2 separate regions of the Homo sapiens genome follow, and region 1 is linked to region 2. Evidence: fine-mapped expression QTL. A gene starts in region 2. The other region holds a variant in brackets. All regions are shown on one strand. Distances are between the middles of the regions.

Evidence for each region.
Region 1: its variant is fine-mapped to the expression of OR2L13 in pituitary (GTEx, PIP above 0.99). The same link has a PIP of 0.9 or more in amygdala, anterior cingulate cortex, breast, caudate, cerebellar hemisphere and cerebellum.

What each region holds. Positions count from the first base shown.
Region 1 is chr1:247,934,581-247,943,156 of GRCh38, reverse strand. OR2AJ1 (olfactory receptor family 2 subfamily AJ member 1) reads right to left here. Exons shown (of 2, transcript NM_001355235.2): 2 at 7,818-8,576. The coding sequence ends at 8,402. It also overlaps the pseudogene CLK3P2, a transcript of OR2L13 not described here and the pseudogene OR2X1P. Among named protein-coding and RNA genes, the nearest start is that of OR2L8, 10 kb to the left of the region's middle. The variant C/T (reference allele first, on the strand shown) is at 3,441.
Region 2 is chr1:248,091,915-248,100,490 of GRCh38, reverse strand. It overlaps OR2L13 (olfactory receptor family 2 subfamily L member 13), which reads right to left and starts at 5,307. Exons shown (of 3, transcript NM_001395936.1): 1 at 5,237-5,307; 2 at 1,716-1,840; 3 at 1-1,133. The coding sequence starts at 1,115. The coding sequence ends at 177. LOC105373275 (a long non-coding RNA gene) reads left to right here and starts at 4,949. Exons shown (of 4, transcript XR_949369.3): 1 at 4,949-5,087.

The sequences.
Region 1 (8,576 bases), 160 kb after region 2:
TAGCAACATTATTCACAATAGCCCAAAGGCAGAAAGAAAGAAAGTGCTCATCTACAGAAGAATCAATAAAAATGTATGTATATATAGTTTTAAAAAGAGAAGACATTTTGACGCATGCTACAACATGGATGAACCTCGAATATATTATGCTAAGCGAAATAAGTCCGTCACAAAAGACAAATATTGTATGAATTCGCCTACACGAAGTACCCAGAGTAGTGAAATTCATAGAGAGAGGAAGTGGAAGAGTGGACCCCAGGGAATGGGAGAAGGGAGAGAAGGAGAGTAATTGTTTAACAAGAACAAAGTGTTAGTTGGAGACAATGAAACTGTTTTGGATATGCACGATAGGGATGATTGCACAATATAAATGTGCAATGACACAGAACTCTACACTTAAAATGGTTAAAATGGTGTTTCTCTTATATATATTTACCCTAATAAAAATCATTTAAATGCACTGAAACTATTCTAATTTAATTTCCAAATACATTTTTTAAAAATTTTGGCAGGTTTCTGCTTCTCTGCAGAGCAATTTATTTTCAGTTACTTTATGACTTTGGGCAATTTTTTATAGAAAATTTAGAACACCAAATTATTTTCATAAATGTCATTAGGAATCAATAAGAGACTGGGATTAAGACTAATCCAATATTATATAATTTATATTACTAGTTTAATTATTGGCAAGTAGAACATGTAGTACACTGAGTCAGTTTCTCAGACAAGCTCGGTAGCCCCACTGGTTCCGTGGACCCACTGGAATTCAGGATCTAGAAAACATTTTATGTAGAAAACTTGAGGTTTCCTAATATTAAAGATGATATCTAAAGAAGCAATTAAGGGAAATGAGGACCTTGTGACAGGGGCTACATGACTTTTAAGCACTAAGCAGCCACACAAAATAGGTTATTGGGCAAGCTGGTTCATGCTTACTGTATGCTTCTACTAAAAGTTTATGCTTTTGGTTAAAAACCCAGAATTTAGTTTTATTCATTTTGTGAGGATGGTTTCCAGATGATTTGCACCCATGAGTTTGAGACCAGTCTGGGCAACTTATTCCAATTATTTTTAGGCCCAATATGTAAGTGAGATCATGTAGTTTTTTTGTGTATGTGTGTATCTGAAAGCCAGTCTGGATTGAAGGACAGAAAGAAAGGAAACCAAGACTGGTACTGGGAGGCTACAGTCATAGTAACACAATAATTCCCAGTATTTACCAGCTTGTGAGACCAAATGGGAATTAATCATGATTGGGATTCTCACTAGGAAGGCTCCATGCCACAAAATCTGAAACATACAGAAACTTTAAGATGCCGAAGAGAATAAGAGACATTCCTGTATCCCTGCCACACATTGTATTCATTAATGAAATGAAGAGACAGCCTTTGTACACAGCTCTGAGTCACACTCCATCACTAGGTTCTATAGGTACCAATGCTTGTCCATTTGTTTCACAAATTCTTTCATGACAAGGTCTCTCTCTTTCATGACAAGGTCTCTCTCTCTCTCTCTTTTTCTCTATCTCTCTCCATTCGGCGTCTGTCCAAATAGCACCACAGGAATTTGTTGGTTTAATTGAGGAATCAAGACCAAAATCCATCTATTTTTTTCATCTTCCATGTCTATTTCTCCAAGTATCATGCATATAACAAACTTCTTACATATTCCATATCTCCTTTACAATGACCATGTAAATAAATAAATGAGGGGCATGGTAATGCTAGTTCATCAGAAAGTCTAGTATCCATTCACCATTCTTTATATATCTAAACTCTCTTTTGACATGCCTCAGAGAGCAAACCTTTCAATATCTATGATATAACCCAAATACTTACTCCTCTACCTGACTTATAAGTCTCCAAAATTAACAGCAACAAAATAAAATTGATGAGCAGGACCTAACTAAATGAAAGAACTTCTGTGCAGCAAAAGAAACTACCAACAGAGGAAACAGCCAACCTACAGAATAGGAAATAATATTTGCAAACTAAGCATCTGACAAATATCTAATGCCCAGAATATATAGGGAAGTTAAATAAATCAACAAGCAAAAAACAACCCCATTAAAAAATGCACAAAGTACATGAACAGACACATCTCTGAAGAAGACATACAAGTGGCCAACAAGCATACGAAAAAATACTCAGCATCACTAATCATCACAGAAATGCAAATCAAAACCACAATGAGACACCATTTCATACAAGTCACAATGGCTATTACAAAAAATTTAAAAAAAAGCACAGATGTTGATGAAGCTGCAGAGAAAAGGGAATTCTTATATGCTGTTGGTGGGAATGTAAATTAGTCCAGCAGCTATGGAAAGCAGTCTGGAGATTTCTCAAAAAATTTAAAAAGGATACCATTTGACGCAGCAATTCCATTGCTTAGCGCGCGCACACACACACACACACACACACACGCACGTATGCACACACACACACAAAATCATTCTACCAAAAAGGCACATGCATTCATATGTTCATTGCTGCACTATTCACAACAGCAAAGACATACATTCAACCTAGGTGCTCATCAACAGTGAGTTGGATAAGGAATACCTATAGGTTTTCTGTTAAATTCAACCCAAAACTTTGATAACAATTATTGTTACTGTCTTAAAGTTTCCAATTATAGAAGGCAAAGTAACACTTTCACCCATTAAAGCTTGCTATGATACCTTTATATTTTGTTAAATACTTTATGATATTTATTAAATATACAAAATCTAGTTAACTTGATAAAATTAACTTAAAACATTTACCTCATTAAAATGTTTTTCTAGTTTTTCCTATTAATAAAACCATTTAAAAGTATTCCTAATAGAAACATTTATTTTTCTCTTTGCAATAACTTTTAGGATAAATTGTTAGAAGGGTTTGTAAAATATAAGCCTGTATGTATACATGAAATAAGACATAATTTTCAGGATATTCTTAAATATTGTATTCATGCTTCCAACAAAGAATGAGAAACTTGATTTGACTACAATCAATGTATGTAAGTATGTGTATGTATATATGTGTATGTGCATGTATTTTTCACTTGAGGAAACTAAAGTGTCAAAACAAACCATTCAATGAATAATGGTAATTTCAAGTGGAGTTGTAGATTTTTGAAAAGAAACTGATTGTGAGACTTGAAATACAATTTTAGGAAGTTTCATAAAAACACAGATATTATATTAGTACATGTTTTTAATATAATGGTTTGATTGTATTTCAAATGTAATTCTTATATATTCTTACAATTTTAGTGGGAGGGTGGTGGAAGCCTTAGGTTATCTTTGTCTTTCTAGAGTGTGTTGAGTGATTGAAATCGGTACCCACAAGAGGAACAATACATTTTTAGACATGCATTGAAAAAACAAACATATGTAAAAACTTTATTATTATTGGGGTTTTGAAAATATCCACATCTTTCTACACTTAGAAAGA[C/T]AGAAGGTTCGGTTTTCTTTCCAAAGAAACTAACAACACTCTATAGACATTGAATGTGGAAATAGAGGGAATACACAAGTGAAAGGAATTTTCCTATTCTTTTTTTTATGTAGAATGTTGCTCTAGAGCATATTTTTCATTGCCACCAGAACACTGTCAGTGCCAACGCTGTAGACGACAGGATTGAGTGTAAGTGCAAGGAAAGCATAGAATATTTCTAGAAACTTAACCTGGCCTGAAATGTGGATGATTTAAGTCTCATATACATATGTGAAAATGAATGAGTCCCAGTATGTTACAACTGCAATCATGAGGATGGACCAAGTGGAAAATGACCTTTTCCATGCCTGTGATAATTTCATCTAGAGGACACCTCACAGAATTTGGACAGAAGAAGCAGAAATCATAGAGAAAGGAATGAGCAAAAATATGATGCTGCTTACATTAACTCCTCATTCACCCTCTAGTGTTTCTACATAAGAGAATCTGATGTAGATATAAGAATATATATTTCTTTCCTAAAATAAGTTTCAATTTGTTTACTTACTAAGCCAGGTAGCAGTTTATTAAGCAGAATCGATTTACTTAGGCACTATAGAGACTAGTGGCTAATAGCCTCTTAAACTCTCTAAGCGAATACAAAATTTTACCTTATTTTGTCTAATTAATGTCTTGCATCCTTTACTTATAGCATAAGAACTCAATAGAAAAAGCTGCGTTTCTTCTCAAATGAATTGCCACAAAAGTTTAAAGGACATATCCAGCTACCAGCGACCTACAACGGAATGTTCAAAAGACTATGTGTATCTCCACCACAATACCCAGGTATCTGAACACGCACCACTACAAATGCATGTCTTTAGATTGTGATAGGCTTTACCTTTAAGCCTAATTATTTCTATGTGCAGTACTTTAGGTATGTGGTTAATGTTTAAAATATCTTACTTTCCACTTCCAATTTCATCCAAGTATGCTTTACAATCCCACACTGATTGAACCATGCTCTTTACACTCTTTATTAAGAAAAATATATGTGTGTGTGTCAGTGTGTATGTGTGCATGTGTGTGTGGGCATGTTTATTTACATGAAGTCTTCTACTACCCTCAATGTAGGCGTTTCTATGTTTCTATATCCCCAACAGGAAAAAAATGTTTTTTAGCCCTATCACAGATTATTTTTGTATTTTAATCTGGAAATTTGTAAATCTATGAATTCTGACTTCTAAACTTCTATATCATCCTCAGATCTGTTCAGCAGAATGACTTTCTCTTGCTTACAATAATATCTTGCTATTCGGATTTTTACTGTCTCTGATTTCATGCTGCTCTTGGGTCCACATTAGGTATTATTATGAGTTGTAAAAGCAGGCTTTAAAAAAATACAGCACCTGATGCATCTAATATTAACATTAGCACTTCCAGTCAATTTTGAACGTCTCTTAGCAATACATTTTTATATATCATTATATTAGTAATTTTACTCATTCTCTACTGAAATAAAACTCCTTAGCACACCAGGGATAGGAGACTGTTACAGGACTGGAATCAAGTAAAAAAACTCAATTGTCAGGGAAAAAATGTTATTAATATATAATAATTGCTTATTTTATGTCTAAATTATGAACATTAAATAGTTGTATTATTAGAAGATAATTTCATAGTTTATTTAAGGTCCTTAATATATATTGCCACACTGTTCTTTTTAAAATGTTTGTACCATATTTCATGTATGCCTACAATATGTTATGATGTCCAATTCACCAAAATATGGTTAACATTTATTACTATTGTTTTTAATTTTCCAATTGTGAAAGGCTAATCATTTTTCATTAAAGTTTCATATATATCTTCATATTTTGTTAAATATTTATTTCTATAGTATAAAACATTTAGTTGGCATGCTATAATAAAATTAACCTGAACATTTATTTCATTAAAATGTGTTTTTCTAGTTTTTGCTATGAATAACATTACTTAGGGGAGAGGCGCTCAGGGGAGTGGGTCCCAGCGGCAGCTGAGCCTGGGAGAGGAGGCCCCAGAGCCAGCCCCATCCCTGAGCTGCTGATGGGAGGGGAGGAGTCCCCTGAACCAGCCCCGTAGCTGAGGGGTTGATGGAAGAGGAGGCCCCAGAGCCAGCCCCATCCCTGAGCTGCTGATGGGAGGGGAGGAGTCCCCTGAACCAGCCCCGTAGCTGAGGGGTTGATGGAAGAGGAGGCCCCAGAGCCAGCCCCATCCCTGAGCTGCTGATGGGAGGGGAGGAGGGCTGACAGTCGGGAGCAAGAAGGGAGACTGCGGTAACCGCCCCGTCCCCAGGGGGCCTCTCGTCTGATACCTCGGTCTGGAAGGCGTGCCCAGCTGCCCTTCCGCAGGAGACACCAGTGTGTAGAGCAGAGCCCTTCCTTTCGAGAGGGTCTTCACGCTCTCATCGTGGTCGGCGGTCGCGGGAGAGGGGCCCTCCTGGACCCGCAAGCACGCCCACTACTGCCAAAGACGCCGCGGCTGGTCTCGCAGCAGCGCGTCCTCCGGCAGCCCCAGCGAGTGAGCCCGGGGCTCGGGTGCGGAAGATGATAAAGAGGCTCCACCTGGTGGCCGCAGCGGGTCCTGAAGGAGCGCGTCCTCCGGCAGCCCCAGCGAGTGAGCCCAGGGCGCAGGTGCGGAAGATGATAAACAGGCGCCACCTGGTGGCCGGGTCGGTGATTGGCCCCAAGAGCAATAAAGACAAGTGGGAACCTGGGCCAAGGCGCCTGTGGCAAGGGGGTGAGTGCTTGGACCCTGCCAGAAGGACGTCTCGGGTTGCCGGAGGGTCATCTGCAATGTGGGCAAGCACCGGGAGGCGGCACCGCCAAAACTCAACGCTCTCGAAAAAAATAAACGAGAAGGACTAAGAGAACCAGCTGCTGTGCGTCTTGGGGTGTGACTGGTTCACCCTCCGCGGTCCATGCATATCACCTTTGAGCTCCTGGGCAGGAAAACCCTTGAGTTCCCGAAGGAGAATAACATCCAGCCATTCCCCTCCCACATGTCTGGCACATGGCCCACCAGCTCTGCCACACCCTTAGATTTCTGCACGAGAACCGGCTGACCCACGCACACCTGAAAACCGAGAACATCCTGCATGTGGATTCTGAGTTAAACACCGTCTACAGCGAGCACAGGAGCGATGAGAAGTCAGTGAGGAGCACCAGCGTCCGAGTGGCTGACTTCCCCAATGCCACCTCTGACCGTGGGCACCACATCGCCATGGTGACCACGGTCACTGTCGCCTGCCTGAACTGATCCTTGATCTGGGCTGGACACGCCCCTGCCATGTCCAGGGCATGGGCTACCTTCTCTTTAAGTACTACCAGGTTTCACACTCTTCCAGACCTGTGAAAACCAAGAGCGCCTGGTGATGTTGAAGACCCTACGGCTCATCCCATTACGCGTGATCTCCTGTACCAAGAAGCAGAAATATTTCTACAAATGGGGCCTAGTTTGGGATGAGAACAGCTCTGACAGCCCATATGTGAAGAACTGCAAACGTCTGAAGAGTGACATGCTCCAAGACTCTCTGGAGCACGTGCAGCTGTTTGACCTGATGCGGAGGGTGGTAAAATTGGACGCTGCCCAGCACATCACTCTGGCTGAGACTCTTCTGCACCCCGTCTTTGCTGGCCTGGCAACCTCAGTCGTGGTCCTTCCACACAAGCCACAACCCAAGCAGATGACAGACGCAGGACACTGCATGAGGAGAGCGGAACTGGGCTGCCCAATCCCCATTCTCCAGCCCCTACCACCAGGTCCCAGGACCAGAACCACACAATGAGCAGTGCAATGTGAAGGAAGGCAGGAGCCTGCGGGGGAGCAGACTTGGTGCCCAGCTGCCAGAAGGCAGATTTGACTCAAGCTGTTCATACGTGTTTTTTGTTTTTGTTTTTGTTTTGTTTTTTGTTTGTTTTTTTGAGATGGAGTCTAGCTCTGTGGCCCAGGCTGGAGTGCGGTGGCGCCATCTTGGCTCACTGCAAGCTCCGCCTCCCGGGTTCCCGCCATTCTCCTGCCTCAGCCTCCCGAGTAGCTGGGACTACAGGCGCCCGCCACCACGCCCGGCTAATTTTTTTGTATTTTTAGTAGAGACGGGGTTTCACCGTGTTAGTCAGGATGGTCTCGATCTGCTGACCTCGTGATCCGCCCACCTAGGCCTCCGAAAGTGTTGGGATTACAGGCGTGATCCACCGCGCCTGGCCCATACATTTTAAACTTACAAAGTGTGTCTTAGTGTTTGTAAAAAAAAAAAAAAAAAAAAGGAAAAAAATTAAATGAATTCTCAATAGAAATATTTATTATCTTCTTTGAAATAACTATTAGGATAAATTGCTAGAAGAGTTTGTAAAACATCATCCTGTATGTATAAATGAAATAAGGCAATTTTTATGATATTCCTATCTAATATTGTATAGTTGCTTCTAGCATAGGATGAGTAATTCAATTTTAACACAACTTATATCTGTATATATGTGTGTACATATATATGTGTGTGTGCATATATATGTGTATCTGTAAAATTTTACTAAATAAAGGTGTTGATAAACCAGGCAAAGAATAATGATTTCATATGGAATTTGTGAATTTTTGATAAGTGATTGTTAGCAATATAATTTAACAAAGTTTTATAAAAATAAACATGGATTTGTCTTTTATACAATGGATGTGTGACTGTATTTTTAGGGATATTCTCATAAGTCTTACAATTTTGGTGTTAGGGAATAGGACGCCTTGGGTAACTTCTACTTCCTGTAACTGTTGCATGATTATAATTGGTACCACAGAAGGAACACTACATTTTTAGAGGTACGTGTTTACAACACAAACACATATTATTGTTTATTATTAACAATGTTTCTGAAATATTCACTTCTTATATGTGGTAAGATAGAAGCTTTGATTTCTTTCTAGGAAACCTCTCATGAGTATCCTTCAGGCATTTAACATAGAAATAGACAGAACACACATTCAGGAATTTTCCTATTCATTTTTTTGTGCAGAAAGTTACTTTTGAGCATATTTTTCATCACCGCCAGAACATCTTTATTCCTAAAGCTGTAGATGAAAGGGTTGAGTGTGGGTGTGAGGATCGTATAGAATATTGCCAGGAACTTA
Region 2 (8,576 bases):
TAATATTAATTATAACATTGTTTTGAATTAAATATATTATTTAAATTTATTTGACTGCTTAAATGTACCTATTAGAAAATTTTAAATTATGTTGTATTTCTATTGGACAACCCTGCTCTAGCGTGTTGGAATCAACTTGGAAAGAGGAAATACAAAGGGAGTGGGGATGGCCATGATTATTCTTTCAGGAAAGAGAATATCCCAAACACTCTCCTCATAGCCCCCAGGACTTCCTTATTCCTCAGGCTGTAGATAATGGGATTGAGCATGGGGGTAAGGATGGTGTAGAAGACTGCCAGGATCTTGTCTTCAGCTGGTGAGCGGAGATTCCTGGGCCGAAGATAGGTGTAGACAAAAGGTGCATAGTAAAAGATCACTACAGTTAAATGTGTTGAAATGGTGGTGAAGGCCTTTTTTCTCCCCTCCTTTGAGTGCATATGATAGACAGCAAATAGGACTCGGCCACAGGAAGAAGTGATGCCAATGAAAGGGAAAAGGAGAAAGAGGCTTGTACTTACAAAAACCATATATTCATAGACCCAAGTATCTGTACAGGCAAGAAGCAACATGGCTGGGACATCGCAGAAGAAATGGTCAATAGCCCTAGACCTGCAGTAGGGAATATGAAGGGCAAAGACTGTGTGTGCCAAGGAGTTGATGGACCCCAGTGTCCAAGAGCCTCCAATCATCTTCACACACATCATTTTACTCATGCGGATAGGATAATAGAGAGAGTGGCAGATGGCCAAATAACGGTCGTAGGCCATGGAGGTCAGGAGTAAGCCTTCAGAACACGCCATGGTCAGGAAGAAGAAGCTTTGCACACCACATCCCAGGAAGGAGATGCCTTTCTGGCCGGACAGGAAGTTGTACGCCATCTTGGGGACGGTGGTGGAGATGTACATCAGGTCCATAAGGGAGAGCTGGCTGAGAAGAAAGTACATCGGTGTGTGGAGACGAGGATCCACGTGGATGAGGTGAATCATGGCCGAGTTACCCACCGAGGCCAGAAAGAATATGAGGATGATAAGGCACAAGAGAAATATTCCAGTTTGATTTGGGGGAAGCAGACCCAACAAAATGAAATCATTTGAAGTGTGATTCCATTTCTCCATGAAAACTTTCTGCTGTAACTGTTGAAAGAGAAATAGAAACAAAAGCAAAGCACAAAACATGAAATAAAACACAATAGAAAAACAAAAAGGAACTGACTTTATCAATGTTTGTTTAGAATGAGTTGTTTCTCCACTAACACTGCAGGTTTTTTTTAATCAATTTCTATATCTGAAGCATATGGAGATTAGAGAGGATATTCACTTTCTGTTCTTATAGTTTGATTTTCATTACTGTAGATGACAGCAGAGTCAAGCAGCTACAAATCTATTCAACTGGAAAAGCCAGTGTGAGCAGTAGAACAATTGTAATTTATGGCTTAAGCATGTCTTCCAATTTAATTAGATAGAACAACACAATTAAATGTTAATAATTGAGAATAAAGAAATCAAGCAAACAAAAATAAATAATTTTCCCTCCCTGGAAAGTTTGTCTAGCTTTTTATGCCTAGGCTTTTCCTTGGGAATTTTTATTTATGACTTTTAGAATCTCTCTTTTTCTCTTTACACCACCCCAAATCTGGCAGTTTGTTTTTTTCTTCATGCAGTTTCCCAGGTATTCGTAAACTATATTTCTAACATCTGTGTGACTTCTTCCTTTACCTGGGCTTGGAGTGAGAGGTCATGTTTTGTGTGTGCTCTTCTGTCTGAGGCAGACACTGATGTCTCATCCTGCCCAGCATATTGATTTGGTTAGTCATCTTGGGTTACTGATTTTTCAACTTTTGCTGTTCAAAAGCAAATCATAGTTTGTTGCAATTATTCACATTTAGGAACTTAAACTCAACTGTTAGTTCATATAACCTTGGGTAGCATGAATACAATTGTGAAAGAGAGCCTGCCACAGGAAAAAAAATGGAAATTCATTTCTATAGCTGTCTAAGGAATAAACACTAACAATGAAAAGTTGGGAACATGACAGGTGCACAGTAGCATTGGACTTGGATGCCAAATGGGATCACAGGCACTCTCTGCTTCTTATAGTGCTTTAGAAATAAAAACTGATCAGAAAAAAACATGAAAACCATCATTATGATACATTCATTTCCTCAAATAGTGTTCACTGAATTTATGTTTTATGACAGTGCTGCTAGCTACTGATGTGCTTTGGTGATGAAACACAAAGGATTTTAGAATATGTAATTAAAATTGAGATAATTATACAAACAATAGACCAACAAACTCAAACATACAGTGATGTTATGTAGTGATTACGATTCTATAGAAAAATAAAAAAGCAGAGAGATCATTGGATTAAACAAAGGAATTCAAAAAGTATTCCAAACGACTTTTCTAATTTCCAGGGTATGTATGATAAAGATTGATTTTGTAACTCATGTGGCTTCATTCTATCAGTAAGAACTATCCTAGTAATTTAGTTCCAAGCAAATATTTGATTAATTTTATCAGATTAACATGTTGACAGCCTTTGATGCAGTAGTCACTGAGTGAGGCAGTGGGGATAGAATGATTCATCAGGTGCTGTCCCATCCCCAAGTGGGCGACCAACTGTCCTGATGTGCCCAGGCCTTAGGGGATGCCCAACATGTCCTGGAAATTGGAAAAGCCTTTTGTAGTGCTTTCTGAATTCCTTTGTTTAATCCAGGTTTAAATCCAGGGGAAGAAAGCTGCCAGCATGATCCCATGAGGTGTATCCAATACCGAGCCCTGAACAAGCTGACTTGGGTGTAGGTTTATGTGTTCCATCCTGGAGTTGTTTTGAAGAGAGACATTTTGATTCTTTGTTGCATAGACTATAGCTCAGAGTATTATAAAGATTGTTTTATGGCAGTTACTACAATAATGATTTTGTTTCCAAAAATGGAAAAGTGGCATGTTGTTAGGCAATGGAAGAGAATAGTTACTTTTAGGATCCTGTGAATCTGGGACTTGGAGATTTTAGGTCATGGGATATTGGAGTTTGAGTTTAGGATCTATTTCCATTGATGTCCAGCAGCTTTCCTTGTTAGACATGGGACCTTATTTCATGCACCAGAATTACATGAAGCATCATTCTGTCGGTTACCTTATAGCTGGGAAAATGTTGTTCCTGTGGCTATCAGGTGAGTGTGAGATTAGTGACTGCCTTGGCCATCCTTGTTGACTTAAAGAACGACACTAAGGCAAAATTAATACAGAAAGTTTATTTGGGCCAAGGTTGAGGGCTGCAGCCCAGAAACACTTCTGTGGCAAGTAACCTGGAGAACAAGAAGAGACCCAAGTTTTTAAGGTAAAGAAAGGGAGGAATCAGGAGTGGAGACAAATTCTAAAGTTATTTATCAGCAAGTCTCACTGGTTTCAGAAACAACATTGATCAGTGATTGGTTATGCATTATTTAACTATAGGATATGTGGTTTAGGGGATTGATAGGTTAATTCATGGTTAGTTGCCACAAGTCAGTCCAGAGCCCCCATAGCACGTAGATTCAAGAGATGATTACCTAGCTCAAGAAAGAGTGAGATGTGACTGCGGCCACATTTCAATCTTGCTGGGCCTGATAATTTAAAGGGGGCTACTTATTCCTCAGATAAAAAGTTTATTTTCTTTCTCATTCTAAAAGATACGTTGCTGAAATTTATAGAGTTAAAAAACACCTCATTTCACAGAAACTAACAATGTAAGTGTAGCAAGTGTAGGGTCCTGAATTTATTTTGCAAAATTACAATTAGTGAATGCTTCTTAAAACTCTTTTAAACAATCAGCAGGAGACCAATAGCAAATAGTCATAGACTCAGCTCCCTCAATCTCAACAACGTATAGGACAACTATAAAGAGAATTCACAGTTCTGTGTGTTCAGCACATAGTAGGTCCTTAGTAATTGTCACTGTCCTTTGCCCATTCCCTGTGTTAACCATGGAGAGCCCTCACGCCCTGAGAAAATGTTTTTATTAATGTCACATTGTTTGAGAGCTGCACATAGTGCAACTCTAACAAGTTCATGTTACCTTTTTTTACATTTTTAGTTCACTCTTGGTTTTCATTTTTTTTTTTTTTGAGACAGAGTCTCACTGTGTCGCCCAGGCTGGAGTGCAGTGGCCTGATCTTGGCTCACTGCAAGCTCCGCCTCCCGGGTTCACGCCCTTCTCCTGCCTCAGCCTCCCCAGTAGCTGGGACTACAGGCGCCCACCACCACGCCCGGCTAATTTTTATTTTTGTATTTTCAGTAGAGACCGGGTTTCACTGTGTTAGCCAGGATGGTCTCGATCTCCTGACCTCGTGATCTGCCCACCTCGGCCTCCCAAAGTGCTGGGATTACAGGCATGAGCCACCTGGGTGCCCAGCCTTCTTTTTCAATTTGTTATGGAACTGTCTATTCCCTGTGCAGCAGAGAGTTTCCTGATGATAGGAAAACATTTCCAAAAAAGCTTTCTAGGATAAAGCCGACCCAAATCAACTCAATTCAGTTATATTACTATGACTCACTTTGCCCGAAGTTCTTCAGTTTATATAGTGGTATAAAAAGCAGTTTTATGGCCAGGCGCAGTGGCTCAGGTCTGTAAGCCCAGCACTTTGGGAGGCCAAGGCGGGCGGATCACGAGGTCAGGAGTTCGGGACCAGCCTGACCAATATGGTGACACCCCATCTCTACTAAAAACACAAAAATTAGCCAGGCGTGGTGGCATGCGCCTGTGATCCCATCCACTCGGGAGGCTGAGGCAGAAGAATCACTTGAACCTGGGAGGCAGAAGTTGCAGTGAGCTGAGATCGTGACCCTGCACTCCAGCCTGGGTGACATAGTGAGACTCCATCTCAAAAAAAAAAAAAAAAAGCAGCAGCTTTACAGTGACATCATAATCTGCAAACATTCCATATAATTATTTAAAACATGTAAGCATCAAACTATGTTCTGATAGTATATCAGGCTATCAATAACATTATATCACTGATCAATAGGCTCTGCATTAAACCAAAACTCTTTCTGAAGTGAGAATCTCTTCTTTATCTGCCAAAATTCATGAGGAAGAAACACCAGGTAACACTTTATAATATTCATTCCTTACAGCTCCCACAGCTAGTCATTGTCTTTATGGTGAAATCAGAAAACAACTTCACCAGCTCTTGTGAAATATTATCCTGTTTGCATATGCAGTGTTTAGATAAAGTCTCTTCCTTTCCTCTTACCTTGTTTCAGTGAGAACAGAATAAGGCATTTTACACTGAAGTCTCTCAGGTTCCACCATTGGAAGACAGAAGGATGAATGGCTATATTTTACACACAGAACCTTAAGTCACCAACCCTTAGATATTCCTCTTTCTCCTCTAATTGATCTCCAGTGTCCAAGTCCACGGGGGCCAAAACCTTGGTCACTTCACTTGACTTTGCTGATTTGGGGATGAACTCAAATTCTGAACTTAAAGCAAATCAACCAACCCAATCAACTTTGCTGCATTCAGCTGCTACCCAGAATCAGACTAAAGAGGGGTGTATTTAATATTCCAGTACATGATTTCAGAGCTATAGAAGATGTTAAATTATGTTTATGGAAATTCTGTCATCATGTAAGTTAGAGAATTCCGGATTAAAAAAGTGCAGGAACCACTTACAAGTACTCGACTCAGTAATAGCAGAACTAGTCCCAAGGATAGTTTCCTGTCCACTCTTTAGTGAGTTTCCAGGGGGAATGATTGATGATTGTGACTAAATTAAATTATACTAGGATAAAACACTTCCTTCTACTTGTTAGGTGGGGGTAGATAATTGATACATGACAATATATATCCATTTAGCTATTCTACTAAAGTGAAAGCTGACTCTTAGAGACAATGTGATAAAATGAGCATTTAGAGTCAGAGAGAATACTCTAGTCTGACAGCTATGCCACTAATTAGGAAGCTGAGTTGGGAAAATTACTTAAGATTTCAGCCTGTTACTAATCTTTACAACTGGACTAATTTGAGGGACATTCTAATAATTAAATAGAATGATGTATGCCAAATGTTTACATAGTGTCTGTTGCAGAGGAAGGGCTCAATCAACTGTAGCATCTCTTAACCTCTTTAATCCATACATTGGTTAACTAGAAAAGAACACTTTATTTGGGGTTATATTGTTCTTTTTTTATCTTTGAAGGCACTAACTGCTATATTTTATGTCAGAAATTAGAAATAATGCTATAAAATTAATATCCATGTTCTTTGTTTTTTTCCTTTAATTTTTTAGAATTATTATGATTATCTAATGGTTGCATATATTCATGAGGTACATGTGATGTTTCAATACAGGCATTCAATGTGTAATGAGCAAATAAGGGTATTTGGGGTACCTATTACCTCAAGCATTTATTAATTTTTTCTGTTAGAAATGTTCCAATTCCACTTTTAGTTATTTTGAAATATACAATAAATTATTGTTAACTATAGTCATCCTGTTGTGCTACTACATTCTAAGTCTTATTCATCCTAACTGTATTTTTGAGCCCATTAATCATCTCCAGTTTATTCCCCACTCTACTCTACTCTGCCGAGCCTCTGGTAACAGTCATTCTACTATATTTATTATTTTTTAATTTTAGCTCCCACATATGAGCAAGAATGCTCAAAGTTTGTCTTTCTGTGCCTGGCTTATTTCATGTAATATAATGGATAATGAAAATTTACTAGATACATAGAACACTATTCAACCATAAAAAAAAATAAGAGTGAATTCCTTTCATTTGCAACAACATGGATGGAACCGGAACTAAAGTAATGCTGGATTCTTGAATTATCTTGGCACCCTTTGTCCTAGGAGATGATGAGATGAGACTCAATAAATACTGGATGCAAATACGATGAAGTACGAAACTGGACAAAGCCATTCTAGTGCTTTAAATAAGAAGAGTGGACCAGTTATGATCACATACAGATTTTTTATTGCTCTTGTTAGTCTTTGGTAACTTCTATGTTTTTCCCTGCTGCAATGTGGTGCTGCTTGCATTTAACTCAGTGCAAAACTCAAACCCAGGTAAAACTCATTCTCAGCCTGTTACCGTCCCTGTAAGATCCATACACAGCAATGAAACGTGACTTGAGGAAAGTCCAATATATGATGATGCATCTCACCTCAAATTTATGACAATACATCTCAGATTTATGAATACAAATCTCATGGCCCTTTTGCCACGTCACAGTATGTTCTTGTTCTCTGCAGACTTTCTCTGAAAAGTAGTGATCCATGCCTCCTCCTGCTTTCCCCAAACCTTACCCCACTTCCACATCTCTTAGACTCCTCTGGGAAAAATAAACAAACCTGTTAATAAAACAATCAGATTTCAAACTTTTCTTCCATGAACTGTATCAGCCTCCCTCATTCTGTACCATATACTCAGCCTTGTTTCCTGTGACAGCGTATGAAATGACCGTGCTCCTGCCTAAACCCACTCTCTACTTTTGCACAAGGCTCAGCCCCTCTCAGCATCTCCTTTTTACATTTCCATTTCCATCTTCATCTGCACAGAAACATAAATTCTTTAGAGGAAAATATGGCTGTCAAAGATTCAATCATACTCCTTGGAGGCTCTGACCAAAGATTGAGCATCTTTTTCTTTCTGCAGAGATGGAAGTTACTCATTAACAAGTTGGAGCGGTGATGGATATTATAGACAAGGGGTTTCAGTAGGTGCGATCAATTAAAAAAAATCCAGGATGTAATGAATTACTCTGTGATGGTGTCTCCATGAAGCCTGGGAGCTTATAATGAGTTTAGAGATTCTTTACAATTTCTTAGTGACAATAAAGTTTTGGTTTAACCAGTGTAACCCTTCTAAGAAGACTGTGAGGCAGGTATAATTTGTGAAAGTCTGTTTTATAGACCAGAATGTGGTGTACTTTGATGAGTGTGTATTCTAATGTTGTTGAATGGAGTAGTCCACAGATGTGAAATAGATCCAGTTGGTTGATGGTGCTGTTCAGTTATATTCTTACTGTTTTCCTGCCTCTGGATGTATCAGTTACTAACAGAGGGGTGCTGAATATCCAACTTTAATTGCAGATTTATGTATTTCTCTTTTGTTGTCCTATATGTTTTTGCCTCATCTATTTTGACATTATGTTGTTAGGTACATACACATTAAGTATTAATATGTATTATGTAGGAAGTCTTAGCCAGAGCAATTAGGCAAGAGTGAAAAATGAAAAGCATTTAAACAGGAAGGAAGGAAGTCAACATATCTCTCTTTATAGATGATACCATTCTATATCTGGAAAACCCCATAGTCTCTGTCCAAAAGCTCCCTGATTTGATAAATAACTTCAGCAAAGTTTCAGCATACAAAATCAATGTACAAAAGTCAGTGTCATTTCTATACACCAATAGCAGCCAAGGTAAGAGCCAAATCAGGAGCTCAATCCTATTCACTATGGCCATGAAAAGAATACAGCTAATGACGGTGGTGAAAGATCTCTACAATGAGAAATATAAAATGCTGATCAAAGGAATTGGAGAGACACCAACAAATAGAAAAACTTTCCATGTTCATGGATA